Homo sapiens: one gene and its partners. The protein of the gene in region 1 purifies or fractionates together with the protein of each later gene. This does not show direct contact. Each region holds a gene or a part of one and is shown in the gene's direction. Other genes may lie near its edges.

Evidence for each region.
Region 2: the proteins of MFSD1 (region 1) and CC2D1A purify together in Homo sapiens (affinity purification with mass spectrometry; one large-scale study listed by BioGRID and IntAct). This does not show direct contact.
Region 3: the proteins of MFSD1 (region 1) and RAB10 purify together in Homo sapiens (co-immunoprecipitation; one large-scale study listed by IntAct). This does not show direct contact.
Region 4: the proteins of MFSD1 (region 1) and PTPN18 purify together in Homo sapiens (affinity purification with mass spectrometry; one large-scale study listed by BioGRID and IntAct). This does not show direct contact.
Region 5: the proteins of MFSD1 (region 1) and RP2 purify together in Homo sapiens (affinity purification with mass spectrometry; one large-scale study listed by BioGRID and IntAct). This does not show direct contact.
Region 6: the proteins of MFSD1 (region 1) and ABCA3 purify together in Homo sapiens (affinity purification with mass spectrometry; one large-scale study listed by BioGRID and IntAct). This does not show direct contact.
Region 7: the proteins of MFSD1 (region 1) and OSTC purify together in Homo sapiens (affinity purification with mass spectrometry; one large-scale study listed by BioGRID and IntAct). This does not show direct contact.

The regions. Positions count from the first base shown.
Region 1 is NC_000003.12:158,818,834-158,822,971, forward strand, and holds part of MFSD1 (lysosomal dipeptide transporter MFSD1), read left to right. Parts: intron 1-815; coding exon 816-914; intron 915-1,381; coding exon 1,382-1,493; intron 1,494-2,763; coding exon 2,764-2,820; intron 2,821-3,150; coding exon 3,151-3,307; intron 3,308-4,138. UniProt on the Homo sapiens protein: Lysosomal dipeptide uniporter that selectively exports lysine, arginine or histidine-containing dipeptides with a net positive charge from the lysosome lumen into the cytosol.
Region 2 is NC_000019.10:13,912,488-13,916,625, forward strand, and holds part of CC2D1A (coiled-coil and C2 domain-containing protein 1A), read left to right. Parts: intron 1-40; coding exon 41-106; intron 107-680; coding exon 681-815; intron 816-916; coding exon 917-1,151; intron 1,152-4,138. UniProt on the Homo sapiens protein: Transcription factor that binds specifically to the DRE (dual repressor element) and represses HTR1A gene transcription in neuronal cells. The combination of calcium and ATP specifically inactivates the binding with FRE.
Region 3 is NC_000002.12:26,134,792-26,138,300, forward strand, and holds the end of RAB10 (ras-related protein Rab-10), read left to right. Parts: intron 1-146; coding exon 147-230; 3' UTR 231-2,663; downstream 2,664-3,509. UniProt on the Homo sapiens protein: The small GTPases Rab are key regulators of intracellular membrane trafficking, from the formation of transport vesicles to their fusion with membranes.
Region 4 is NC_000002.12:130,358,900-130,363,037, forward strand, and holds part of PTPN18 (tyrosine-protein phosphatase non-receptor type 18), read left to right. Parts: coding exon 1-76; intron 77-333; coding exon 334-410; intron 411-497; coding exon 498-593; intron 594-708; coding exon 709-747; intron 748-4,138. UniProt on the Homo sapiens protein: Differentially dephosphorylate autophosphorylated tyrosine kinases which are known to be overexpressed in tumor tissues.
Region 5 is NC_000023.11:46,874,623-46,878,760, forward strand, and holds part of RP2 (protein XRP2), read left to right. Parts: intron 1-2,882; coding exon 2,883-2,968; intron 2,969-4,138. UniProt on the Homo sapiens protein: Acts as a GTPase-activating protein (GAP) involved in trafficking between the Golgi and the ciliary membrane.
Region 6 is NC_000016.10:2,330,437-2,334,574, reverse strand, and holds part of ABCA3 (phospholipid-transporting ATPase ABCA3), read left to right. Parts: intron 1-1,841; exon of another isoform or gene 1,842-2,328; intron 2,329-4,138. UniProt on the Homo sapiens protein: Catalyzes the ATP-dependent transport of phospholipids such as phosphatidylcholine and phosphoglycerol from the cytoplasm into the lumen side of lamellar bodies, in turn participates in the lamellar bodies biogenesis and homeostasis of pulmonary surfactant.
Region 7 is NC_000004.12:108,660,140-108,664,277, forward strand, and holds part of OSTC (oligosaccharyltransferase complex subunit OSTC), read left to right. Parts: intron 1-3,093; coding exon of another isoform or gene 3,094-3,167; intron 3,168-4,138. UniProt on the Homo sapiens protein: Subunit of STT3A-containing oligosaccharyl transferase (OST-A) complex that catalyzes the initial transfer of a defined glycan (Glc(3)Man(9)GlcNAc(2) in eukaryotes) from the lipid carrier dolichol-pyrophosphate to an asparagine residue within an Asn-X-Ser/Thr consensus motif in nascent polypeptide chains, the first step in protein N-glycosylation.

The DNA.
Region 1 (4,138 bases):
TTTTAGAGCCAGAAAAGACCTGTGCCATCATCAGGTCAAATCCTCTTATTTAAAACTGGGGAAATTGAATCCAAGAGAGCTTGTGTTCCATGTCCAAGGTGATTCAGCTCGTTAGAGCTCACGTCTACTGATGCTCATTTCAGCGAATTTTCAACCGGGCTGTGGTAGGGCAGTGAATTAAAGATTCATTTATTTTATTAAGCTTCTTTTGGAAATTCTTCCTGAGAAGTGTATCGTTATTCACTCTTTATCCTGATTTTCTGTAGTGATATGAGATTGGTATTAGAGAGAAATGCTGATCTCACAGGAAAGAGCTTGAGAGTACTGCGCTTTGGGAGGATGGGGCACTTGGGCTGCCAGAGGGCAGGAGCGAAGGCCGTGGACTCTGGGAAAACATCGGAAGGAAGAGAGATGAAGAGCCTAACTTGGCTTCATCATTTTTTCCCTGGTGTCCATTGACAATTGGTGCTTAGACTGAATGAAGAAATGAGGACTACATCAGTAGCTGCTCATCAGTTTTCTTCAGTCTGTATTCTGCATTACAGGACTAGACTAGTTTTTTCTAGTCTTTTCCTTTTAATCTTTAACTTTGAACTGTGAAATAATGCAGTAAAAGCTACTACTGTTTGCTGAGTATTTGAATGTACTCTTCCTCTTTTGTCCCGATTTAGTAATTGCAGATTTTTCTCGTGTCTTTATGTGACATCCCTTTCAGTTGCTGTTTTTGCTGTTTATGTAATGTACTTCTCCTTAGGAACCTTCTGTTTGGTTCTCTTTTCAAAGTCTGTTTTTCTTTTTTTTTTTTTTTTATTTAGGGGGTATAACGTGTATTCTTTCACTAATCTGTGCCTTGGCTCTTGCCTACTTGGATCAGAGAGCAGAGAGAATCCTTCATAAAGAACAAGGAAAAACAGGTAAGTCTAAATGAAAGAATGGGACTTAGGGGAATTACGGCCTTTGTGAGATTTTATAATGAGATCTAAGTTCCTAATGAAGTGTTGTAAAACCAGGTGGAGCTTAAGACATGATTTTTATTTTTTATTTCCAAATTGATTTCCACTTTTCTAAATTTTTAGATGTATTTTCTTTTCCCCTTAAATCTTTTGGCAGAATTTACATTCTCGATTGTATATTTGCAAAATGGTTATTCTTGGAAAGGAGCAGGAAAGGTAGATGCCAGTCTTAGTCTTAGGTTTTGCTTTTTCTTATGTCTTTGTAAGTTATCCCAGAAATGATGTTTGTGTAATTTACTAGAAAAGTATTTTTTTAAGTTGAATTGCAAAGATTAATCACAAGATTTTAAAAAATAATCTTGACTATAGATGAAAGCTCCTTAGGTATGCAAAATTATGCTGATAGTGTCTTCCCTTTCTTCTCTAAGGTGAAGTTATTAAATTAACTGATGTAAAGGACTTCTCCTTACCCCTGTGGCTTATATTTATCATCTGTGTCTGCTATTATGTTGCTGTGTTCCCTTTTATTGGACTTGGGAAGTGAGTATTCTCTATGTTTCCATTATTTCTTGTCTAAATTATCATGAGAGTTCAATCACATAAATGTAGTTTTTAAAGCAGTAAATCTTGCTTCTCTGGTTATAGTTTATATTTTCACAGGAATTACTTTAGATCCTGGGATATACATTTTCTTTTAGCTTAAGGTTTAGTATTGGTTTTATACTTTTATTATTCTTTTGAAGAAATACCTGTATTACTCCACTCTCATGCTGCTAATAAAAAACTGCCCCAGATAGGGTAATTTATAAAGGAAAAAGATTTAATTGACTCACAGTTCCATAGGGCTGGGAAGGCCTCAGGAAACTTATAACCATGGCAGAAAGGGAAGCAAACATTCTTCATTCACATGGTGGCAGGAGAGAGAAATGAGTGCCAGCAGGGGAAATGCCAGCTGCTTATAAAATCATCAAATCTCGTGAGAACTCACTCACTATCACGAGAACAGCTTGGGGGAAACCACTCCCATGATTCAATTACCTTCTACAGGGTCACTTCCATGACAGGTGGGGATTACGGGGATTACAATTCAAGATGAGCTTTGGATGGGGACACAGCCAAACCATGTCAATACCTAATAATTTTTGATTCATAATATTGATTTAATAGTTGATTTTAGACTAGTATTCTTTTTCATTCCCTCTTTATTCCTTGGTTAGAAAGGCTCTTACTGAGAATGGAGACTGTTTATTGGTGCACTGTGCCTGGGAACATCTCCATTGATTAGGACTGTAATTCTGCCAGACTTAAATTCTGGGTTCAAAGCAAATTCTTCTTTGCTTTATCTTCTACTTCTCTCTCCTTTTTCATTGGCAGCTGCTTAAGCAGCGCAATGTAAGTGTGTTTGTGTAAGGGTATGGTTTATACCCTTTGAGTTCAGGCTGTCCTTTTAAATAGTTTCAGACAAGAACCCTGTTTATTATTTAGCAAAGAACCCATTCAGTACTGCTTTTAAGGAAAAGAAGCAGCCTTAAGTCCCTGTGGTAGTATATTTGATTTTCTGAAAATTTGTGTGTATTCCTTACTGCATACCAGAAAAGGAAAAAAATATGCATCATATGTCATTTAGTCAGTAAACATTAATATAAATACTGAAGCTTTAGCAGATTGCCTGAAGGTGAATATAAATAAGGTGGGAGAATAATATCAAGAAAGAAGCTGATTAAACTTGAGTTATTTTTATTCAACTTTATTTTTTGAAAACAGAGTAGTTCTCTCTAATGTGCTAATTTCTCTGTCTTTTTAATTTTAGAGTTTTCTTTACAGAGAAATTTGGATTTTCTTCCCAGGCAGCAAGTGCAATTAACAGGTATTTTAAAATTAATTTTGTAAGTGCCTATTGCATGTGAAGTATGGGTCTTTATAATCAAATGTTAAAAGAAGCAAAAAAGATGTATGTGACCTAATATTTTTTAAGTGCGAAACTGGGACTACATTGGGACTTGAATCCTGAGTGGCTGTGTTTAAATTAGTGGAAAACCAAAGAAGTCTTGAACTGCTTTTTATATTTTTTGATGAGCATTTTATAAGAATGTTAAATGAGTTAGGATTTGCTTTGCCTGATATTTTCAAGACTTTCTTGAAACTGATGTTTGACTGTGTTGCATTTCATGAAATGTCTTATGTGTTCTCTGGGCAGTGTTGTATATGTCATATCAGCTCCCATGTCCCCGGTGTTTGGGCTCCTGGTGGATAAAACAGGGAAGAACATCATCTGGGTTCTTTGCGCAGTAGCAGCCACTCTTGTGTCCCACATGATGCTGGCCTTTACGATGTGGAACCCTTGGATTGCTATGGTAACGTCTGTGTTAGCCCATGGTGGGGTCAGGGCTTCAGCAAGGAGTCTGTCATGTTCATCTAAGTAGGCACGCTCAGCAAATTCAGATGACAAGGCCTATGATAGTGGGGAGATGACAACTTGATTCCAATATCTACAAAATAATTATTTTTTAAAGTATAATTATGAATTATTAACATATAAGGTATCTTTTAATTTCATTTGATTTATTTAACCAGTTAACTTCAGTGCTGAAAGAGAATTTGAAATAAAGTAGCCTTATAAAAGCCAGAATGCTTATTAGTCCCATTTGTTTTTCTAAAATAGGTGACTTAAAAGAAGGCATTCCATCATAGATGGCAAAAAACCAAAAATCTGTTGGACCAGTAACTCTTCTTTTTCTTTGACTTGCTTAGTAGGTTAAAAAGTGATAATGAATTCAAGTTTTTGTTATTGTTGTTCAAAACATCATTTTTAAGACCCGAGGCTCTAGTGCTGCATTTCCTACCTGTTAATAAAGGAATATCTGGAACATAAATATTTGTGCAGTGAGTGGGCATTTCTCTAGAAGTGTTTCAACAGATACAGTACAGACTCCTAGAAGTAGAGATGCTACAGCAGTGGGTTTGCGTATTTAACATCTTGGTTGAGATTGTGAAACTTTCTCCGATAACTTTCTACCCATTTATAACTTTAGTAATATACAATGTGACTTTTTTTAGTATCCTTGCTAGTATTGGGCATTGTCATTGTTTTAATCTTTGCCAATCTGATAGTTATAAGTGATACTCATTTAAATTTAAATCACAATATTTCTTTTTTAATTGAAGAAAAAATCAGCATTAGGTGA
Region 2 (4,138 bases), on another chromosome or scaffold:
GCAGGCCCTTATATCCTGCCCTGGCTGTGTGTCCCTGCAGGCGGAGCTAAATGAGGTCCTTGGAGAGGAGCAGAAGGCTTCAGAGACCCCACCTCCTGTGGCCCAGGTACAGTTTGGATGACTCCACTCCCTTGAACCACAACCCAACGGACAGCCCGGGGTTCAAGACCTAGCCTTTTTTATGAGATGGAGTCTTGCTGTGTCACCCAGGCTGGAGTGCAGTGGTGCCATCTCAGCTCACTACAACCTCTGCCTCCCAGGTTCAAGGGATCCTCCCACCTCAGCCTCCCCAGTAGCTGGGATTACAGGTGTGTGCCACCACGCCTGGCTAATTTTTGTATTTTTTGGTAGAGATGGTGTTTCTCTGTGTTGGCCAGGCTGGTCCTGACCTCAAGTGATCCACCTGCCTTGGCCTCCCAAAGTGTTGGGATTACAGGCGTGAGCCACCGCGCCTGGCCCACCCTTATCCTTCACAGCCATGTGACCCATATCAGGTGGGTGACATGATGCTTCTGAAACCCCATTCCCTCCACTGGGAAATGGGGACCATGATTTCTGCCTCACTGGGGCAGGGGAGGCTGGTCCAGGGATGACATGGGGCCGACTGTTACTGCAGAAGGGGCTAACAGGGGCATCCCAAGTGGGGTCACCACCCACACTGTGCCCCTGCCCTCCCACAGCCGAAGCCTGAGGCCCCTCATCCGGGGCTGGAGACCACCTTGCAGGAGAGGCTGGCGCTCTATCAGACAGCAATTGAAAGCGCCAGACAAGCTGGAGACAGCGCCAAGATGCGGCGCTACGATCGGGGGCTTAAAGTAAGTGGGCAGAGGGCAGGGTACAGGGACCCCCCGCCAACCCCGATGCCCTGCACCAAGCTCTTGGCTTCTCCCAAACCAATACTCACGCCTTATCTTAGACACTGGAAAACCTGCTCGCCTCCATCCGTAAGGGCAATGCCATTGACGAAGCGGACATCCCGCCGCCAGTGGCCATAGGAAAAGGCCCGGCGTCCACGCCTACCTACAGCCCTGCACCCACCCAGCCGGCCCCTAGAATCGCGTCAGCCCCAGAGCCCAGGGTCACCCTGGAGGGACCTTCTGCCACCGCCCCAGCCTCATCTCCAGGCTTGGCTAAGCCCCAGATGCCCCCAGGTAGGTGATGGGCAGGGCCGGGCTGATATGGGATCCGAGTGGGCCATCTGGCAGGATGCTGCTCTAGGGGGGTGCCGGCTGTGCACTGATTGTGAGATATTTTCAACACCCTGAGTCCTGGGGTCTTCAAGCCCCTGGAGTTCATGAATACCTCCCAAGCAGGACATGGATACCCAGAGAGTTTTTTTTGTTGTTATTATGATATTATGATAAAATATAGATCACATTTGCCATTAAAAATTATTTTAGTTCTTTTTTTTGAGATGGAGTTTCGTTCTTGTTGCCCAGGCTGGAGCGCAGTGGCACGATCTCAGCTCATTACAACCTCCACCTCCCAAGTTCAAGCGATTCTCCTGCCTCAGCCTCCCAAGTAGCTGGGATTACAGGCATATGCCACACTTGGCTAATTTTGTATTTTGAGTAGAGATGGGGTTTCACCTTGTTGGCCAGGCTGGTCTTGAATTCCTGACCTCAGGTGATCCACCCACTTCGGCCTCCCAATTTGCTGGGATTACAGGCATGAGCCACTGTGCCCGGCTTTTTTTAATTCTTTGAGACAGGGTCTTACTCCATCACCCAGGCTGGAGTGCAGTGATGTGATCATAGCTCAGTGTAGCCTCAACCTCCTGGGCTCAAGGGATCTTCCCTCACCTTCACCAGTAGCTGGGACTACAGGCATGCACCACACACTTGGCTAATTTTTTTTTTTTTTTTGAGTCGGAGTCTCGCTCTGTCACCCAGGCTGGAGTGCAGTGGTGCGATCTCGGCTCACTGCAACCTTTGCCTCCTGGGTTCAAGCAATTCTCCTGCCTCAGCCTCCTGAGTAGCTGGCATTACAGGTGCATGCCACCACACCTGGCTAATTTTTTGTATTTTTAGTAGAGACGGGGTTTCACTGTGTTAGCCAGGATGGTCTCGATCTCCTGACCTTGTGATCTGCCTGCCTCGGCCTCCCAAAGTGTTAGGATTACAAGCATGAGCCACCACGCCAGGCCTCATCGCCTTTTTTTTTTTTTTGAAACAGAGTCTCACTCTATTGCCCAGGCTGGAGTGCAGTAGCATGATCCTAGTTCACTGCAACCTGCCTCCCAGGCTCAAGCAATCCTCCCGCCTCAGCCTCCTGAGTAGCTGGGATTACAGGCATATGCCACCGTGCCCCATGCCCAGCTAATTTTTGTACTTTTTGTAGAGGTGCCATGTTGCCCAAGCTAGAACATATCTTCTAAGAGGTTTTTCTTCCTAACCTCCCCCTAGGAAAGGAAGGCCTCCCTCCCTCTCTTTGTGATATGAACACGGGGCTTTGCCCCAGGTCCAAACACTTCCCTGGCAGGAAGCAAAGAGACAACTCAAAATACTGGCATGGGTTTGAGAAAGCAAACACTGGGTCACTAAATCCTTCTGCAACCAAGCTAGTTTCCAAGCCATTGTTTTTGACAAAGTTCAAGGATTACTGGAATTGTCACCTGAAATTGTCAACTGAAACGACCAAAAATTTTTCACAATGGAAGTTTGGCATAAAACTTGTCAGGAGTTCAAAGAATACAAAGACATCACAGTAACAAAATTCTGTGTCTTCCAATCTATTTGTTAATGTGAAGTAGGTTTCTCAATACTTTAATTTTTTTGAGACGGAGTCTCGCTCTTGTTTCCAGGCTGGAGTGCGATGGCGTGATCTCGGCTCACTGCAACCTCCGCCTCCCAGGTTCAAGTGATTCACCTGCCTCAGCTTCTCGAGTAGCTGGGATTACAAGCGCCCACCACCAAGCCCGGCTAATTTTTGTATTTTTAGTAGAGACGGGGTTTCACCATGTTGCTGCCCAGGCTGGTCTCGAACTCCTGACCTCAGGTGATCCGCCTGCTCCGCCTCCCAAAGTGCGGGGATTACAGGCGTGAGCCACCACCCCTGGCCTCAACACTTTAAAAAAGAAAAAAAGTGCAGATGTAGTGGCTCATGCCTGTAATCCCAGCACTCTGGGAGGCCAGGAGTTCAAGAGCAGTCTAGGCAACATAGCAAGAACCCATCTCTACATAAAAATTAAGAAATTAGCCGGGTGTGGTAGTGCATGCCTTTAGTCCCAGCTCCTCGAGAAGCTGAGGTGGGAGGTTCGCTTGAGTCCAGGAGTTCAAGGCTGCAGTGAGCCGTGATCGTGCCACTCCAAGTCTGGGCAACAGAGCAAGATCTTATCTCTAAAAAAAGAAAAAACAGAAGAGGATTGAATGGGAGAAACGAGTTGATTGTTAGGGATTGGACCCAGCTCCAATTATGTCAGCAAGAGGTACATTTCTGGTAGAATTTTGCTCTTGGTGTACCAAAACTATCAAATAGCTCAGCAGGGGCTGGGCGTGGTGGTTCACACCTGTAATCCCAGCACTTTGGGACACCAAAGCGGGCGGATCACTTGAGGCCAGGAGTTCAAGACCAGCCCTGGCCAACATGGTGAGACCTCATCTCTACTAAAAATACAAAAATTAGCTGGGCGTGGTGGTGCATGCTGGTAGTCCCAGCCACTCGGGTGGATGAGGCAAGAGAATCACTTGAACCCAGAAGGCAGGGGTTGCAGTGAGCCACGATCACACCACTGCACTCCAGTCTGGGCGACAGAGCAAGACTCTGTCTCAACAAACAAACCAACCCAAAAAGCTCAGCTGGGTGTGGTGGCTCACACCTATAATTCCAGCACTCTGGGAGGCCAAGGTGGGAGGATCGCTTGAACCCCGGAGTTCGAGATCTGTCTGGGCAACATAGGGAAACTGCGTCTCTATAAAAAATTAAAAATTAGCCAGCCATGGTGGTGCATGCCTGTAGTCCCAGCTACTTGGGAGGCTGAGGTGGGAGAATCACTTGAGCCTGGAAGGTTGAGGCTGAAGTGAGCTGTGATTGCACCACTGCACTCCAGCCTGGGTGACAGAATGAGACCCTGTCTCCAAAAAAATAAAATAAAATAAGCTTGATGTATTTACGTTTTGCTCAATTACATGCTAGTAAT
Region 3 (3,509 bases), on another chromosome or scaffold:
TTACTTTGCACGGAGGGGAAACCTATCTCCTGTGATTGTAGTTGTATTTTGTTGTATAAATTGACATAAGAATATTCCTGTTGAATCGTGATTTTATCCATGGCAGTGTTTTTTCATGAGTTATTTTCCTTGTGTGTTTGTTGCAGACCCCTGTAAAAGAGCCCAACAGTGAAAATGTAGATATCAGCAGTGGAGGAGGCGTGACAGGCTGGAAGAGCAAATGCTGCTGAGCATTCTCCTGTTCCATCAGTTGCCATCCACTACCCCGTTTTCTCTTCTTGCTGCAAAATAAACCACTCTGTCCATTTTTAACTCTAAACAGATATTTTTGTTTCTCATCTTAACTATCCAAGCCACCTATTTTATTTGTTCTTTCATCTGTGACTGCTTGCTGACTTTATCATAATTTTCTTCAAACAAAAAAATGTATAGAAAAATCATGTCTGTGAGTTCATTTTTAAATGTACTTGCTCAGCTCAACTGCATTTCAGTTGTATTATAGTCCAGTTCTTATCAACATTAAAACCTATAGCAATCATTTCAAATCTATTCTGCAAATTGTATAAGAATAAAGTTAGAATTAACAATTTTATTTTGTACAACAGTGGAATTTTCTGTCATGGATAATGTGCTTGAGTCCCTATAATCTATAGACATGTGATAGCAAAAGAAACAAACAAAAGCCAGGAAAACACTCATTTTCGCCTTGAATATGTAAATGGGATTAATTTTGTCCTGTGCCTTATGTGGAAAGGAACTTCTTTGGTTTTCCTTTTTTGTTCTGGTGGAAGCATGTGCAGGAGACATATCATCCAAACATAAACCATTAAAATGTTTGTGGTTTGCTTGGCTGTAATTTTCAAAGTAGTTAATTGAGGACAAAGGGTAATGCAGAAGTGATAGCTTTGGTTTGCTGAGTCTTGTTTTAAGTGGCCTTGATATTTAAAACTATTCCTGCCACCATTTCTTCTCCTTGGCCACTTCTTCCTTGCGTCTCCCTGCATGCTGCTTTATTTGCTTCTCCCTCCCCAACCACCTCATGGTATATTTAAGAGTGAAAGGGACAAACTAGTAGGTTTGTCAAGTTTAATATAAAGCACTGATGTAACTTGCTAGGTAAACGGAAAGATAAGTTCTAACTGCCTACTATCCAATGTCAGTTAATTGGTGTCTTCCCCCCTCATTTGCTCTCTTCCCTAAAATGTGTCCCAGATGCCTTCATTTGCTGTTTTACTTCTATGTTCTGCTTTTCCTCCTCTCTTTGTTCCCTTCCTGTCTATCCATTGAGTTTATGAAATGGAAGAGTTAACTGCATGCACTAGTGTTTGGAGGGTGTTGTGGTTTGTCTTTCTAATTAGGTGTATAGCCTATTCACTTTCCTAGAATAAATCTCTTAACCTAAATTTGAGTAGTCTGCATTTTGGCAACTCCTCTAGCAGCTTGGTAGCCTAGTACAGGTTGTTTTTTTAAAAAAGGAAAAGCAGGAAGGAGGAGTGAATTTTATTAACATGTTTGCCAAATGTATTGAGATTTGGCCTCTGAAGAACACTTTTTCAGTGTTAAGTTTCTTTACCTTAAGATTCAGAAATACTTTAGAATATTATTAATTTTAAGTCCTGTCTTTACATCCTTTTGGAAAACTTGTATTACCATGGGTTTGGAAAAAGGACAACGAAAGGCTTTTCATGTAAAGATAAGATCTTTAGCTATCTCTAACCCTGTCCTTTTTTCACTGCATTTTTTCTAGTTTTGCTTCATTGCTTATCATTAGGATAGGGTAAGTGAAGTTTGCTATGCTGCTAGCATCCTAAGATGATACCTTTGTTGAAAGAATTGTGAATAGCATGATTCATTTCTAGCAGAGGCTGAGTTTAGGACAGCAGCTTCCATTGAGAAGTCTTTCTGTGTCGTGAATAGCATTTTAATGACCTCTTGGCTCACATAAGCAAACAACATAGGGACGTATCTGCTATGAAAATCCACAAATTTTTCAGATAGTGCCCTAAAAACAATTTTATATGCCTCACTGGTTGTTATTCTTAGGTTATTCCCACACTTGACTTTATCATTGTTTACTACTAGTAAAAAGCAGCATTGCCAAATAATCCCTAATTTTCCACTAAAAATATAATGAAATGATGTTAAGCTTTTTGAAAAGTTTAGGTTAAACCTACTGTTGTTAGATTAATGTATTTGTTGCTTCCCTTTATCTGGAATGTGGCATTAGCTTTTTTATTTTAACCCTCTTTAATTCTTATTCAATTCCATGACTTAAGGTTGGAGAGCTAAACACTGGGATTTTTGGATAACAGACTGACAGTTTTGCATAATTATAATCGGCATTGTACATAGAAAGGATATGGCTACCTTTTGTTAAATCTGCACTTTCTAAATATCAAAAAAGGGAAATGAAGTATAAATCAATTTTTGTATAATCTGTTTGAAACATGAGTTTTATTTGCTTAATATTAGGGCTTTGCCCCTTTTCTGTAAGTCTCTTGGGATCCTGTGTAGAAGCTGTTCTCATTAAACACCAAACAGTTAAGTCCATTCTCTGGTACTAGCTACAAATTCGGTTTCATATTCTACTTAACAATTTAAATAAACTGAAATATTTCTAGATGGTCTACTTCTGTTCATATAAAAACAAAACTTGATTTCCAGCTGTGTGGTTTGGTTTTCATTTATTTATGGAATTGGAAGATTACTTCTGAAAAAAATGTGGAATCGCAAACTCAAAGAGTTGACAAAAATGGGAAATCACTGTCAACCTATGGAAAACTGGAAAGGCAATTTCAAGAACTGTCTTTGCTGAGAAACTACATTAAAAAATAGAATTATCTCTGGGATCCTAAAGCGGAATCATCCTTGTGCCAAAATAGGAGATGCCACGATCCTAATCACACCTGGCTTACACTAGTTGGATGTGCCTAAGGCCACTACAGCTGAGGTCACCTGATTCCTCAGGGGGACCAAGCTGGGCTCCTCATACTGGAGGGTAAATCCTTGTTTTAGCAGCAGCTGGCCTCTTACTAAGAAACAAAGTATTGGCCAGGTGCGGTGGCTCATGCCTGTAATCCCAGCACTTTGGGAGGTCAAGGCGGACGGATCACGAAGTCAGGAGATGGAGACCATCCTGGCTAACGTGGTAAAACCCCGTCTCTATTAAAAATACAAAAAAATTAGCCGGGCGTGGTGGCGGGCGCCTGTAGTCCCAGCTACTCGGGAGGCTGAGGCAGGAGAATGGCGTGAACCCGGGAGGAGGAGGAGGAGGCTGCAGTGAGCCGAGATAGCGCCACTGCACTCCAGCCTGGGCGACAGAGCAAGACTCCGTCTCAAAAAAAAAAAAAAAAAAAAAAAAGTATTGGCTGGGCGCTGTGGCTCACGCCTGTAATCCCAGCACTTTGGGAGGCCGAGGCGGGTGGATCACCTGAGGTCAGGAGTTCAAGACCAGCCTGGCCAACATGATGAAACCCCGTCTCTACTAAAAATACTAAAAGCCGGGCGTG
Region 4 (4,138 bases), on another chromosome or scaffold:
GACGGCGTGTGCTCCACCGTGGCCGGCAGTCGGCCAGAGAACGTGAGGAAGAACCGCTACAAAGACGTGCTGCCTTGTAAGTCGGGGCTTCCGTAGGGAGTCGGTGCAGCCTTGCACGCCCTGCCACGTCCAGGCGTCAGTGTGCACTGGAGTCACCCACTGTGCTCTCCTCCCAGAGCCTCACCCTCTGCACTGCTCAGCAGCCCACAAGGGCACCTTGGTGGGATCTCTGCATGTGTGTGGTCCCCTGCTGGCTTTCAGCTAGGGGGCTGTCAGAGGCTCCGTCACCCTATCCTACCCAAACTCCACGTTTCTCACCTTATCTGCTGACAGATGATCAGACGCGAGTAATCCTCTCCCTGCTCCAGGAAGAGGGACACAGCGACTACATTAATGGCAACTTCATCCGGGTGAGGGTTGGGGTCACGGAAGGAGGTGGACTGGGAGTGGCCAGGGGTGGGCCGCAGAATCTCAGTCGTGAATTCGGCCTTCACCAGGGCGTGGATGGAAGCCTGGCCTACATTGCCACGCAAGGACCCTTGCCTCACACCCTGCTAGACTTCTGGAGACTGGTCTGGGAGTTTGGGGTCAAGGTCAGCACTTGGGGGTGCGGCACAATGGTGGGGTCAACATCTAAGTACCCCCTCGGCAGTTTCCCTGGCCCCCTCACCCAAATCACCTTCCTCTCCCCTGACCCTCCTTGTCTAGGTGATCCTGATGGCCTGTCGAGAGATAGAGAATGGGCGGGTAGGTGCCCTCTGCCCCCAGGTTTCATGTCCTTGTGGGAGGAGGGAGGAGGGATCTTGCTAGCTCCTCCTTGACCCCAGGACCCGAGGGTCCAGCTCTTGGAGTGACCTTATTGTAGCTCTGTGGGAAGCCCCATTGTTCCTCTAAGTTTTTGTTGATATGTTATTCATCCCCCAGTGTTGGCAACCCCTCTCCTGCTGGGCTTCCCAGCCATTTCACACCTTAGACCATAAGGCCCTATTCTGACTGCTTCCCCTGTAGGCTCTGATCTCTCTTTCCACCTCTCTTCCCTTTATTCACTCCACTCTAACAACTCTGGTCTCTGCTGTTCCCATGTTCCAGGGATGGCTCTGCCTCAGGGTCTGTGCCTTGGCTATTCCTTCAGCCTAGGACATCCTTCCCTGTGGCTTGCTCTATCACCTCCTTCAGGTCTTTGCTCAAATGGTAATTCCTCAATGAGACCTTCCGGGGTGGGTCTTCACACCATTTTAAACTCTCAGCACTTCCATTCTCCCTCCCTTGTCCTACTTTTCCTTCTTTCTTCACAGTTCTTATGAACTCCTAACACACTGGATAATCTACAAATGTATTATGTACATTGTTTATGCTTAATCTCCCTGATTTAGAAGGTAAGATCCACAAGGCCAGGGATTTTTGTTTTGCCTGTTAACATAAATTAGTTACTAAATAAATAAATGCATGTCAATATTGAAGGCTGAAGGCACATAGCTTCATGTGGTTTCTACATTCTTGCCTACTCCATGGATGGGGTAGGGGTTCCCTGGGGTGACTAGCTGATGGTGGAGGCTGTATGATCTGTAGTCTTGTCTCTTTCTCATTCCTGATTTTGGTAATTTGTGTTCTCTCTCTCTCTCTGTCTCATCTCTCTATTTCGCTATCTCTTTTTTCATGCTCCTGCCTGTTTTTTGTAAACAGTGTATTAGAACACAGCCACACTCATTTATTTACATATTGTGTATGCCTGCTTTTATGCTACAGTGGCAGAGTTGAGTAGTTGCAAGTTGAATAAATTATATGGCCTGTAAATTCTAAAGTATTTATCTGACCCTTTATAAAAATGTCAGCCAATCTTTGGACTAGAAGTTTATCATTTTATTATTTTTTCAAAGAACCTGCTTTGGTTGTATTCATTTGTATTCATTTTCTCTATTGATTTTTTCATTTTCCACTTTTTTTTTTTTTGAGACAGAGTCTTGCTCTGTTGCCCAGACTGGAGTGCAGTGGTGCAATCTTAGCTCACTGCAACCTCTGCCTCCCAAGTTCAAGCAATTCTCCTGCCCCAGACTCCTGAGTAGCTAGGAATACAGACACATGCCACCACGCCCAACTAATTCATTTTCTACTTTAATTTCAAGTGTACTTGAAAACAATGTGTATTCTGCTTTGGTTGGCTGGAGTGTCCTGTAAATACCAATTAGGTCAACTGACAGACTTTTTAAAAAGACACTTTTATATCTTTACTGTATATTTTATATCTTTACTGATTTATTTTCTCTAAATGTATGGATTGCTTAGAGAGGAGTGTTGAAATTACCAACTGTTCAATAAGTATTAATTAGGTCAAGTTTGTCAACAGCACTATTCAAGTCTTATTTCTGACAATTTTTTTTGTCTGCTTGCCCTATTATTTGCTGAAAGAGGAATGTTGAAATCTGCTTTAACTATTCTTTCAGTTTTACTTTTCATGTTTTAAAACTTTATGATTGAGTACATATACATTTAGGATTATGTCTTCCTAATGATTGGATCCCTTTCTAATATGTAATGACTCTTTATTTGTTAATATTTTTTTCTGAAGTGTACTTTGATATTAATACAGCCATTTAAATTTCTTTCTTTTCTTTCTCTTTCTTTCTTTCTTTCTTTCTTTCTTTCTTTCTTTCTTTCTTTCTTTCTTTCCTTTCTTTCCTTTCTTTCCTTTCTTTCTTTCTGTTTTTTTGAGATGCAGTTTCCCTCGTCACCCAGGCTGGAGTTCAATGGCGCGATCTTGGCTCACTGCAACCTTTGCCTCCCAGGTTCAAGCGATTCTCCTGCCTCAGCCTCTCGAGTAGCTGGGATTGCAGGTGCCTGCCACCACGCCCAGCTAATTTTTGTATTTTTAGTAGAGATGGGGTTTCACCATGTTGGCCAGGCTGGTCTCAAACTCCTGCCCTCAGGTGATCCACCCGCCTCAGCCTCCCAAAGTCCTGAGATTACAGGCATGAGCCACCGCCCTCGGCCTTAAATTTCTTTAGAGTTTGCATATGTCTTTTCCCATTCTTTTACTTTGTATCTATGTTCATCTTTATTTTTTAGTGTGTTTCTTGTAGGTGGTGTATTGTAGGGACTTTTTTTTTTTAAGACAGAGGGGAATGGAGTGGTGCAATCATAGTTCACTGTAACCTCAAAATCCTGGGCTCAAATGATCATGCTAGCGCAGCCTCCCTGAGGAGTTGGGACTACAGGCATACACCACCGTGCCTGATTAATTGTTTTTTATTTCTTGTAGAGATTAAGTCTCACGTATAATCCAGGCTGGTCTCGAACTCCTGGCCTCAAGCTGTCCTTCCACCTCGGCCTCCCAAAGTGCTAAGATTACAGGCATGAGCCACTGCATCTAGCCAGGACTTACTTTTAAATCTAATCTGACAGTCTCTGCCTTTAATTGGAATATTCAGCCTTTAATGTAATTATCAATAATGTTGGGTTTAAACCTACCATCTTGCTATTTGTTTTCTATTTGCTCTGTTTGTTCTTTTCTTCTTTTTTTCTCTTTCAGAGTGAGAATTTTTTATTAATCTATTGCATAGTAATTATTCCCTTATTAGCTATACATCTTTATTTTAAATATTTAGTTGTGGCTTTAGGGTTTACAATATATATCTTTAACTTATAGTCTATAGTCAAATAATATTCTACATTTCATGTAAAATGTCAGAACTTTACTGTAGTATATTTCGATTACCCCTTTCCATGCTTTGTGCTATTGTTACTATATATTATAGTTCTATATATAAAATATACTCCACAGTACACTGCTATTATAGTTGTTTTAGAATATCTTTTTAAACAGCTTTATTGATATACAATTCAGTCATTTAAAGTGTACAGTTCCATCATTTTTCTATATTCCTGAGCTATGCAACTATTACCACAGTAAGATTTTTGTTTTTGTTTTTGTTTTTGTTTTTGAGACGGAGCCTCGCTCTGTCCTCCAGGCTGGAGTGCAATGGCGCGATCTCAGCTCGCTGCAACCTCCGCCTCCCGGGTCCACGCCATTCTCCTGCCTCAGCCTCCCGAGTAGCTAGGACTACAGGCGCCTGCCACCACGCCCGGCTAATTTTTTGTATTTTTAGTAGAGACGGGGTTTCACCGTGTTAGCCAGGATGGT
Region 5 (4,138 bases), on another chromosome or scaffold:
TAAATATTTCATTATCTTAAAACAAAATTAAAAATGTTTTCTTAACTACAGTGCATTATCACATTTAACAGAATTAACAATAATTCCTTAGTATCCTCTAATATTCAGTCTATATGCAGATTTACCTACTTACTAAAATAATTCTTTGTGTTTTTACAGTTAATTTGATCCAGATCTAAAATAGACCCACTTACTGTATTTGGTTTTTTTTTTTTAATCTTCTATCGCTCTTAAATCAAAAACAGGTGTTCCCCCTCTACTACTTTTTTCTTGCCTTTGTCTTGGGAAAGAAGCTTGGTCAATTATGTTATAGTATTTATGAGGTTGTTTAATTCGTTCCTCCATATTTCTTGCAGACTAGAAGTTAGATCAAAGCCTTGTTTACGTTCAGGTTTAGTTATTTTTTTACTTTTATTTTTTAATTTTTTTTGGCAGGAATACATAGATGGTACTGTTTCCTGTTGCATTAATTGAGAAGGCACATAATGTTTGATTGTTGTACTTTTAGGGATACTAAGATTTAATGGTTGGGTTTACACGGTGACGACCTTCTCTTTTTATTGTAGAGTTTCCTGCAGTCTTCTCTGTGGGATGCTAAAACCATTGATGATTGTTGCCTGAACCAATTGTTTTAATAGGCGTTGCAAAATGACTGTTTTCTGTATTTTCTTTCTTTTTTTTTTTTTTTAGCAAACTTACTTTTTAATCTTGTCACTACCTCTGCATTTATTAACAGATGTTAACAGAACTCCTCGTATGCCAGAGCTGTTTGGTTAACTTGAAATATGCTTCATGTCAGAAAAGCAGAATAAATAAAGAGAAAAATAAGCATCAATTTTCAGAGTAGTGAATTGGTGCCCTAGCAACCTCCATTGGTATACAGTGAATTTTGTTTCTCTCTTCTTTTTTTATTTTCCTTAAAAATATCTGGTAGTAAGGAGGATCTCTCTAAGTATCATTATGAACTCATGACTTTTTATATATTAATTTTAATAAATCAGAGTCATTATTCCTTCTGTTTCACTATGTCTCATCTTTGGCCATTGGGAGCCCCTTCAGGCTGGCTTCTGTCTCCTTTTGATAGAACCCCACTGGCCTTTGATAGCTTCATTACTTTTTGGCTGAAGAAAATATTCCACATTGACCTTAATCCATTTCTTGCCCCAGACATGGAATCATCTATTTTTCTAAGATTACTTAGTTATTTTTAGTGGGGAATGATATTTAGAAATACATGTTAGGTGCTATGTATTACTGGGTTGTCATTTCTTTTAAGCTTTTTCAGTGGACATAGCTAGAAACTATGTATTTTTAAAAAGGAAAAGATCATGAGTTTACATTGATATTTCTAAATAAAAATTTAAGATTTTAAGCTTTTCTTTTGTAAGGTTAGATGTTTTATTACAATATGTTCTTGAACTCCTGGCCAGGGCTGAAGGCAAGAGGATTGCTTGAGGCCAAGAGTTTGAGACCAGACTGAGCAACATAGTGAGACCCCATATCTATTTTTTTTTTGAGACATGGTCTCGCTCTGTTGTCCAGGCTAGAGTGCAGTGGCTTGATCATGGCTTGCTATAACCTCAAACTCCTGGGGTCAAGTGATCTTTCCATCTCAGTCCCTCGAGTAGCTGGGACTACAGGCCTGTGACCCTGCACCCAGCTAATTTTTTAATTTTTTGTAGAGACGGGGTCTTGCTTTGTTGCCTAGGCTGGTCTTCAACTCCAGGGCTTGTGATCCTCCTGCCTAGGCCTCCCAAAATTCTACGATTACAAGCATGAACCACTGTGCCCAGCCGTGAGATTCTATCTCTAAAAGAAATTTTAATACATTTTTAATAAAGTATACAGGAGGATGTGCATAAGTTATATGCAAATACTATACCATTTTATTAATATATAAGGGATTTGAGCAACAAATGGAACCAATCCTTGCAGATACCTAGGGACCACTATATCCTGCCTTTTCTGTATTTGTTGCCTGTATTATATCACAAGCCTCCAAGAAAAAAAAAATCACAAGCCTTCAGTTATCTTGATGCCCAATGTAGTGTAACCTTTTCTTTCTCATTCTTGTACCTTGTACTGCAGCACACGGTTACATTCAATTTAGTGTTTCATATTCATTCACTCTAGTATTTCATTACTTCGTACTTCATTATTCTGTGTTGGTTTGTATTTGTTTAATGGGTTTATGTCTTCTTTCAATACATTTGTAATTTCCTGGAGATCAAGACTTTTCCATCACTGTAGGAGGTTTTTAATGTTTTCAAATTAATGTATGAGAAAGGAGGCACAGATATTCTATTAAAAGGATTAAAAAATAAAAACTTTGTCTATGTTTCTAGAATGTAGCTTTAAGACACACTCAAGGAAAATACTTTCAGATGGTCATCACTTTTGGTGCCTGGCCTCAATTCTTATTTGGCTTAGCTTCATTATTGGTGGCCTAGAACTTGGCTGGTAAGTAGGAGAGTTGGAAGCAAGGCTGGCTGCCTGGCAAAACCTACTTATGTTGACTTGGATTGCTTTTGATCTTATTTGCTATTTTATCAACTATTTTTATACTCCTAAATGAGTAGAATTTCTGTGGTTTTTATAGAAGAATGAGAACCAGAAAAGCCAGACTATTTACAACACTTTAAAAATGTGACACTAGTCCTATAATAGTACTGAAGCTACTTGTTATGAGACTGTGTTAATTTGTTTTATGATTAGCGTAGGAAGAAGCAGCTGAGGTGATATGTCCCATCTGTCTGCTTTCCTCTTCCTTCTCTTTCACCCTCAAAGAAGATGCTGGAGATTCTTCAGGGAAGAATAAAAAGATTAAATTTAGAATATATTTGTATTTGTGTTAAGAAAATGTTTCTTGGGTTTGCTTATAGGTCCTGTTATTGCCTTGGAGTTTAATGGGGATGGTGCTGTAGAAGTATGTCAACTTATTGTAAACGAGATATTCAATGGGACCAAGGTACAAGATTTTATTGACTGTATTTCAATCTAACTTTTCATTTCATCTCCTTTTCCTTACAGTCAAATAATACTTTAATACTTTTGTCCCTAATGTTGCTTGGAATTTTTGGGGTGTGTGTGTGTGTGTGTGTGTGTGTGTGTTTAAAGCAGATCATGATTTTTAGAACCTTTGATAAATAATTGGGAACTAAGCTGTGATTTTTTTCTTGCCAAACTAAACTTTAATTGTTTAAAATAATTACAAAATAAGAATCTATTTATTAAAAACCTTCTATAGTATATGTTTCTAAAGTAAAAAGTCTCATCAAATGTCTTTTCAAGTCTTTGCATTTTTAAAAATACTGATTTGTTGAAAATATTTTATTTCTAAGATTATAGTCTTTAGATGGACGATTCTGTTGCCCAGGGTTCATTTTTACGCCCAGGGTTCATTTTTACTTGCTTCAGTAATGCTTCACCAAAAATTGAACTTCAGATATACATAGAAATCATCACATGTAGGCCGGGCGCGGTGGCTCACGCCTGTAATCCCAGCACTTTGGGAGGCCGAGGTGGGCGGATCACGAGGTCAGGAGATCGAGACCATCCCGGCTAAAACGGTGAAACCCCGTCTCTACTAAAAATACAAAAAAAAATTAGCCGGGCGTAGTGGCGGGCGCCTGTAGTCCCAGCTGCTTGGGAGGCTGAGGCAGGAGAATGGCGTGAACCCGGGAGGCGGAGCTTGCAGTGAGCCGAGATCCCGCCACTGCACTCCAGCCTGGGCGACAGAGCGAGACTCTGTCTCAAAAAAAAAAAAAAAAGAAATCATCACATGTAGGCATTTTCTAAATATATTGATGAAGTTGCTGTATCTAAGAATTGCAGACATAAATAAATTTAAAACCAAACATAGAGGATTACATTAGCAAATCTATAATTGACTACTTTTTGATAAATACCTGGGAGGACATTTTGGTTTTATCATCTGATTTGGCTTATGATTCCTTGAATTTACAAAAATTAAAGTACTTTGTCTTTGATCTCATTTTATCATCACAGTAGTACTAAGGGAGAGGGAAAATACCAGGTTGAATAGAAAAGGAAACTGAGAGATAAAATGGTTAGAATTTGGACTTTTAGAGCTGAATGATTTAGAGATTATCTAATCCAGCTTTCTCATTTTACAGGT
Region 6 (4,138 bases), on another chromosome or scaffold:
GGGCTGCACTCCAGCCTGAGTGATAGAGCGAGATGCCGTCTCAAAAAAAAAAAAAAAAATTACTGGTGTTTGGGCATTTCATCCACAGGATCCATTGAATTAGACATTTTCAAATATTTACTGTGTACCCGTCTCTCAAAAAAGATAATGTCCTAGATAAAGGATTAAACAAAACCAGTCACCCTCACCCAGCATCACTGCCCATTGGGACACACCCCGAGCTCCCTTCTTGGTGCAACATCCAGCGCCTTGATGACATGGGCCCAGGGTCTGCGCCTTTCCTGGCTCATTCTCTGCACTGCCACTCGGAATGACTCGCTGCTCCCCATACACAGTCTGTCTCCAGGATCCTGTAATGTCCTTCCTGTCCCAACTAATGAGTCATTCAAGACCGGCTTCCCATGTCACCTCCCCCCATCACCCTCCCGGGCCATCTCCCTGTCTTGCTCGCTGTCTCACACACGCAATTAATTCCTGTCTTCTCCTGAATCTTGCCATACTTTATTTAGCATCCGTCACAGCAATTACAGTGCATGCAAGTGTTCAGGGACTGTGAACTCCTTGGATTAAGAATGTTATCATCGGCCAGGCGTGGTGGCTCATGCCTGTAATCCCAGCATGCACTTTGGGAGGCTGAGGCGGGTGGATCACAAGGTCAAGAGTTTGAGACCAGCCTGGCCAGCATGGTGAAACCCTGTCTCTACTAAAAATACAAAAAATTGGCAAGGCATGGTGGCGCACGCCTGTAATCCCAGCTACTCAGGAGGCTGAGGCAGCAGAATCGCTTGAACCCAGGAGGCGGAGGTTGCAGTGAGCTGAGATCACACCACTGCAGTCCAGCCTGGGCAACAGAGTGAGACTCCGTCTCAAAAAAAAAAAAAAAAAGAATGTTATTTTCATTTCCAAATCCTTAGTACCTTGTACAAGTGCCCATCAGACAGCAAAAACTTGGCAATTGTTGAATGAACAAATGCTTTTTTGTCTTGTATACCCTAAAAGACCATGGATTCTACCGGCCTCCATTAATTGACTGTCCTCCGTGCCTCAGTGCGCATACACGCGGATCTTTGATGCTGGCTGGCTGTTGCAGACTCCTGGTGTCAATATTGGGATGTTGGGTCCTCCCCTGAAGGAAAAGCACCAAATGTGACCAGCACCACACCTGTGGCAAAGCGAGCAGAGCCATGGTTGGCGGCTCTCTTTGTGCATCTTGGGGCGGTTCACCTGTGGCTTTATCAAGGCCCCCTTCTTTCCATGAGTGGATTTCTCTATGCCTTTGTGGACAGGCTTTCATGGAGGGAGGTGTAACCAAGCTCAGAATACAACAGGAACACATGGCGTAATGGGTCTTGTGCCCCTCACTCTGGCCTGTCCCTTCTGTTCATGGGTCTCAAGACCCACCACCCCCAGGGACCTCTGCTCCATATATGCAGATATAAAAACTTCTTTTGAAAGGGCTCATAAGGGCCAGGCAGCATGGCTCATACCTATAGTCCCAGTACTTTGGGAGGCCAAGATGGGAAGAAGATTGTTTCAGGCCAGGAGTTTCAGACCAGCTTGGGCAACATAGCAAGACTCCATCTCTGCAAAAAATATAATAAGTAGCCAGGTATGGTGGCATGTGCCTGTGGTCCCAGCTGCTCAGGGGGCTGAGGCAAGACGATCACTTGAGCCCAGGAGCACCAGGCTGCGATGAGCCCTGCTCACGCAACGGCACTCCAACCTGGGTGACAAAGCAAGACTGTGTAAAAAAAAAAAGGGCACATAGGAATTGGGTGGCAAATTCAAGCCTATGGTGCACACAAAAATACCTGCAAACCACAAATAAAGAAATGGAGGAGGCAATCGGTGCGGGTCTTTGGACACAAGAAGACAGCCACAGCTGTGGCACACTGCAAACGCGGCAATGGTCTCATCAAGGTGAACGGGCGGCCCCTGGAGAAGATTGAGCCGCCCACGCTACAGTACAAGCTGCTGGAGCCAGTTTTGCTTCTCAGCAAGGAGCGATTTGCTGGTGTGGACATTCGTGTCCGTGTGGAGGGTGGTGGTCATGTGGCCCAGATTTATGCTACCCGTCAGTCCATCTCCAAAGCCCTGGTGGCCTATTACCAGAAGTATATGGATGAGGCTTCCAAGAAGGAGATCAAAGACATCCTCATCCTGTATGACCGGACCCTGCTGGTAGCTGATCCCCGTCCCTGCGAGTCCAAAAAGTTTAGAAGCCCTGGTGCCTGTGCTCGCTACTAGAAATCCTACCGATAAGCCCATCGTGACTATCAAAATTCACCTGTATAATAAACAGATTTTGAAGGATTTTAAAGTTTCAAGGAAAAAAAAAAAAGAAATGGAGGAGTTTGGGATTTCTCCAATTTGCTGCTGAGCACTGGCCGCCTGAAGAGCCACAGCGCTTGTTAACTGGCACAGCCGATGGCTCTTGAGCTGACAACAGTTACTGGAAAGACCATTTGTAGAAGAATTTGTGCCATCAAGAGAGTTCTGAGAAATGAGCAGCCTGCAGTATGCGCTCACTCTGCACCGAGTCAGTTGCTTACCTAAAAAACAAACATTGAGATACTCAATGATATGTGTGATGTTTAATATTTTAACAGTAAGCAAACCTTTTATAGAGAGGGGAAAAGGTTTGCCTTCCCTTTCCTGACTGTGTCCCGGGACTAGTGAAGAGAGCCTCTTCAAAGGGAAGTTCTTGAAGCTCTGCTCTTGTCCTCTTGCTGGGCAGAGGCGGCAGCTTTAGGAGTGGCTGGAGTCCTGAGTGTTTAACTTAGAGTAGCTGATGGGGGCTCAGCCGGGGCCGGTCCTGGGCCTCAGTCATCAGCACTTCTGGAGACTCTGCCGCCTCGGCGTCAAGTGCAGAAGGAACATTAACTTCTTTCTCTTGTGTACATTTGCTTTTGTAACAAAAAACTTGCCAGATTTTGTAATTCTAGGATCTCTTCCTTTAAACTCCTTTTGCTGAAACAGAACAGATGCAAGCGTAGTGTTCAGTGAGACTTTAGGTAAAGCCTCACACGTATCAGGCAACAAGCTGGGTGCCGTGGGGGCACAGAGATAAAACCTCGGCAGGGCACAGTGGCTCACGCCTGTAATCCCCACACTTTGGGAGGCCGAGGCGGGCGGATCACTTGAGGTCAGGAGTTTGAGACCAGCCTAGCCAACATGGCAAAACTCCGTCTCTATTAAAAATACAAGAATTAGCCGGGCGTGGTGGCATGTGCCTGTAGCTACTTGGGAGGCTGAGATGGGAGGATCACTTGAACCTGGGAGGTGGAGGTTGTTGTGAGCCGAGATCGTGCCCAGCCTCGGCGACAGAGCGAGACTCTGTCTCAGAAAAAAAGAAAAGAAAAGAAAAGAAAACTTCTATTAAGGTGATGGGGCTTAGGGGTCTTTTTTACCTTTCAGTTTCTGATGTTATGTTCTAGGAGTGATATGCAAAACTTGTATGAAGTTGGAAGTTGTTCTGTGTTTTTAGGACCCACAGGTTGTAGTAGTGTAGTAGTTAGAAGACAGACTTGGAAGTTAAAACAAGCCAAGGTTCAAGCCCTGACTTGGCAGCTTCTTGCTGTGTGATTTTGGGCCAGGCATTTCCTCCTTGTTTCTTCGTCTGCAAAAGGGTGATGTTCCAGGTCAGGAGATCGAGACCATCCTGGCTAGCACAGGGAAACCCTGTGTCTACTGAAAAATACAAAAAAAATTAGCCGGGCGCTGTGGTGGGTGCCTGTAGTCCCAGCTACTCGGGAGGCTGAGGCAGGAGAATGGCGTGAACCTGGGAGGCGGAGTTTGCAGTGAACAGAGATCGCGGCACTGCACTCCAACCTGGGAGACAGAGTAAGACTCCGTCTCAAAAAAAAAAAAAAAAAAAGGGTGGTGTTGCCAGAAGCCAGGAGAGGATGAGGAGGTTGTAGAAGCAGAGTGCTTACAAGCAGGAAAGCAGAGTTTCAGCTGGGTACAGTGGCTCACACCTGTCATCCCAACACTGTGAGAGGCCAAGGTCGGCGGATCACTTGAGGTCAGGAGTTTGAGACCAGCCTGGCCAAAGTGGTGAAACCCCATCTCTACTAAAAATACAAAAGTTAGCTGGATGTGGTGGTGGGTGCTTGTAATCCCAGCTATTTGGGAGGCT
Region 7 (4,138 bases), on another chromosome or scaffold:
TAACACCGTTGACTAAATCCAAACTTTAGGCTAGGGAAAAAGGGTATACTTTCTGGGTTTCGGTTGTAGATTATGTTTAGATCTAATCAAAACAGGACAGTGGTCCAAACAGAAAATTGCTATTTTCTGTATCTTGTAAATCTAGGATTTGAGTTTTTAAGATGAATTTATGGTTCCCTTTCTGATATCATTTCTCATCTGCAGCTCCTAATGCCTGGTACCTTGGGTATGGAGTGAGGAGAGACAATGGACAGTTTTATATAAGAAATGGAAGTAATGATACTATCTTTCCTGGAATATTTGCAGGCCCCAGAGGAGATGATGAGCAAGGACTGTTGGCCTGTATTACACACAACAGGGTTGTAGTTACTATCCCAGCAAGGAAAGGGTGTATCTTTCTTCTTTCATGCAAATTATCTATGATGACCTAACAGTTTGATTATAGTGAGTGGACTAACCACAACAATAAAAAAGATGTCAAAAAAACACCAATAGCCACTGGTTTTTCCAAATCAACTATGTTTCTAGCATCTGAGATAAAGGATGGCTGTATCATAAGATGCACCATGATAACCTCCAGGGTGGAATTCTTTTTTACAAAGATGTTACCTTTAGCAAGAGATGCCTTTGAAAAGGAGAAAACAGTAGCACTGAAACAGTATTACTGGTTCTGTTTTCTGATTTATGCTTTTTTGAAAGACCTGATGTTTCCCCTATTGATATAATTTTACTAATTAAAACATGTTTTATTTGATGTCTTGAGTTTTGAAGAAACGTCGAAAATGAATGACTGTTGGCTGGGCACAGTGGCTCAGGCCTGTAATCCCAGCATTTTGGGAGGCCGAGGTGTGCAGATCACTTGAGGTCAGGAGTTCAAGACCAGCCTGGTCAACGTGGTGAAAACCAGTCTCTACTAAAAAATAAAAAAATTAGCTGGGCGTGGTAGTGCACGCCTGTAATCCCAGCTATTTGGGAGGCTGAGGCACGAGAATTGCATGAACCCAGGAGGCAGAGGTTGCAGTGAGTCGAAATTGTGCCACTGCATTCCAGGCTTGGTGACAGAGTGGGACTCCATCTCAAAAAAAAAAAAAAAAAAGAATAAAGAATGATTGTTTATTAGCTTTGCACACATAGCAGTACATTTAAAAGGAAAAAATTAAACGTAGTCCCTAATATTTTTATTAGTACAGTCTCAAAGGAGTAATTTTCATTGTGAAAATGAAAATATTCTAATATAATTTATGAGATAATGTATGTGAAATCATGTATGTATGCGTCTGTATGTTCACTGCATTTTAAATATACATAGACTCAAAGGAAATAATGTTCGGTTACTGAGTAGAAGACTGGTACACGTTTGAACTTGATTCTTCTGAAAAAATAATGAATCTTCATTAGATTGTCTTTAGCCTCCACTCTTAGGGCAGCTTTAACTTAAAAGCAGAATCTTTTTCTTTTCTTTTCTTTTTTCCTTTTTTGAGACAGTCTTGCTTTATCACCCAGGCTAGAGTGCAATGGCGCGGTCTCGGCTCACTGCTACCTCCGCCTCCCAGGTTCAAGCCATTCTCCTGCCTCAGCCTCCCGAGTAGCTGGGATTACAGGCATGTGCCACCATGCCAGGCTAATTTTTGTATTTTTAGTAGAGATGAGGTTTTGCCATTTTGGCAGAGGCTGGTCTCGAACTCCTGACCTCAAGTGATCTGCCTGCCTCAGCCTCCCAAAGTGCTGGGATTACAGGCGTGAGCCACCATGCCTGGCCAAAAGCAGAATCTTAAAAAAAATAAAAATAAAAGGTGGCCTGTGGTGGCGTGGTAATGCCCTAAAGTCAGGTGAGGTGTTCAATTGGAGATGGAGGGATGGGTTCCTACATTCAGGCAAGTCTGTTATAAAGCTGTATAAAACTACTTGAAATAGATACTATCAGATAATTGAGGACAAAAGGTCTGCCTTATTTCAGCTGGCAAAAATGGCTTTTTAGCAATTTCACCTAGTGTTTATTAAGCTTGAGAAGAAAAGCTAAGGATCTTCTGGATAAATCCTGAGATCATGGGATCAGTTCAGAAAACAAGTTCTCTTAAAGGGAGAAAGGAATAAAAAATATGAATGTAATAATATTTAAACTAACATCATTTAGGGAATGATATGCTGCATATATGTGATTCCATGTAATTGAAAATACATAAATACTAAAACATTGTATTCATTTTCGACAGACCCTCTTTCTAAAGCGTTTGTTGTGTTGTATTACACGTTAACACTCATATTTGTATGTAGCAAATATTTATTTGATAACTGTTACTTGCTGGACACTGAGATTAAACATAATTTAACCTTCTCCACTGAGGTCATTTTACATTTCTGTTATGCATAGTACTACTTTTCAGTTTTGTTGATTTCACTGGCTTGTCACTTGTCATGGTGATCAGTATATACCTATTGTAATTTCATCCTTTCCCTCTTCTTCTTTTCAGTTTGCTGGTTATTCTATGACTTGAGGGAATAGATAACCTAGCTATTAATTACCTTTTAAATCAGTTCTGGCTGAAGGAGAGCTTAATGGCTTGGCTTTGTAACCATACTTTCAGATGTTTGAGAATCTCTTTCATTTCCTTCCAGATTTGGAGCTATATTTTAGAGAGTTAAGGCTGTAGAGAAACTAGCAGCTGGATTGTTTCAGCGACTAAAAAGCTGATATCCGAGGTTCATTTTTAGCAAATAAGGGACGTAATTCATTCTAAAGAAACAAAACATTTGTACAGCTGCTGAGGACAATGTGTAGTAGAGAGGGTGAGGAATTTGGAGTCCAGTTTTGGCCTGCCACTTAATAGCTCTGAGACTTTGGATTAGTTCTGTGAACTCTCTTGGCCTCAGGTTCCAAACCTGTTAAATGAAGTATTAATGTACCTTGGGGAGTTACAGTTGTCAACATTAAATGAGAAGGTGTGCTCTCAATCATAATGTAAGTGTTAATCAATGTCAGTGTTTTCATTCTAAAGATAGAGTCCTAAAAGTTCTGTTTCAAGTTAGATTATGGCCACAGTTTCAAAAATAAATGAATAAACCATTACTGTTTTTGTTTTGTTTCGTATTGAGACGGAGTCTCGCTCTGTTGCCCAGGCTGGAGTGCAGTGGCGTGATCTCGGCTCACTACAAACTCTGCCTCCCAGGTACATACCATTCTCCTGCCTCAGCCTCCCTAGTAGCTGGGACTACAGGCGCCCACCACCATGCCCAGCTCATTTTTTGTATTTTTAGTAGAGATGGGGTTTCACCGTGTTAGCCAGTGATCTCCTAACCTCGTGATCCGCCTGCCACGGCCTCCCAAAGTGCTAGGATTACAGGCGTGAGCCAAGGTGCCCAGCCTGAATAAACCATTACTGTTTCTAAAAGAAGAAAGTGAGGTTTCCATTTCTAGGACCATTGGAGTGGGTAGTAGACCAGGAGTGAGGAGACTTGTGTTTTAATGCTGGTTTTGTTCTTTTCTGGCCTTGTGATTTTTGAGCAAACGACTTAATTGCTGTCACACTCTTCATCTGTAAAATGAGACTAATCCTTGTTTCACACACCTTTTTAAGATTGTTGCAAGGGTTAAATGCAATAATGAATGTGGTAGTGTTTTGAGAAGCTTCTATTAGTGCTAACCTAGCACAGAGCTTGCCTTAATATACAGAGGCACTGAGTGATTATTGAAAGAATGGCCTTAAAGATTAAATAGAAGGTCCTTCATGGTGGCTTCTCCTGTCTCTAGTTGGTTTTTGAGTTCTTGATTTACTTTTTATTGTATTTATCTACGGTTTTACTTATGTAAAATTCTCACAGGCCTGAATATAAGATTATGAAATTTTCTGGGTCAAGAGAGGGGGCTAAATGATTGAGTATATATTATAGTAAGTGTATTTCAACAATTTTATTTTTATTTCTTATCAAGAAGTATAGTAATGTATTTGTTCTTCTTTTCTTTTTTCTAACATGGTATCGTTATAACATTATAATATTTCTTAGTATCTCCCAAATTGTCCTTAAGGTAAAACTATTTTAAGTTTGGCAGCTTTGAACAGGACATGTCTATTTAAATATTCTTTTCTATCTAAATATAGGTTGACAAGCATGGGTCACCCACTAGTTACAAGGAAGGATA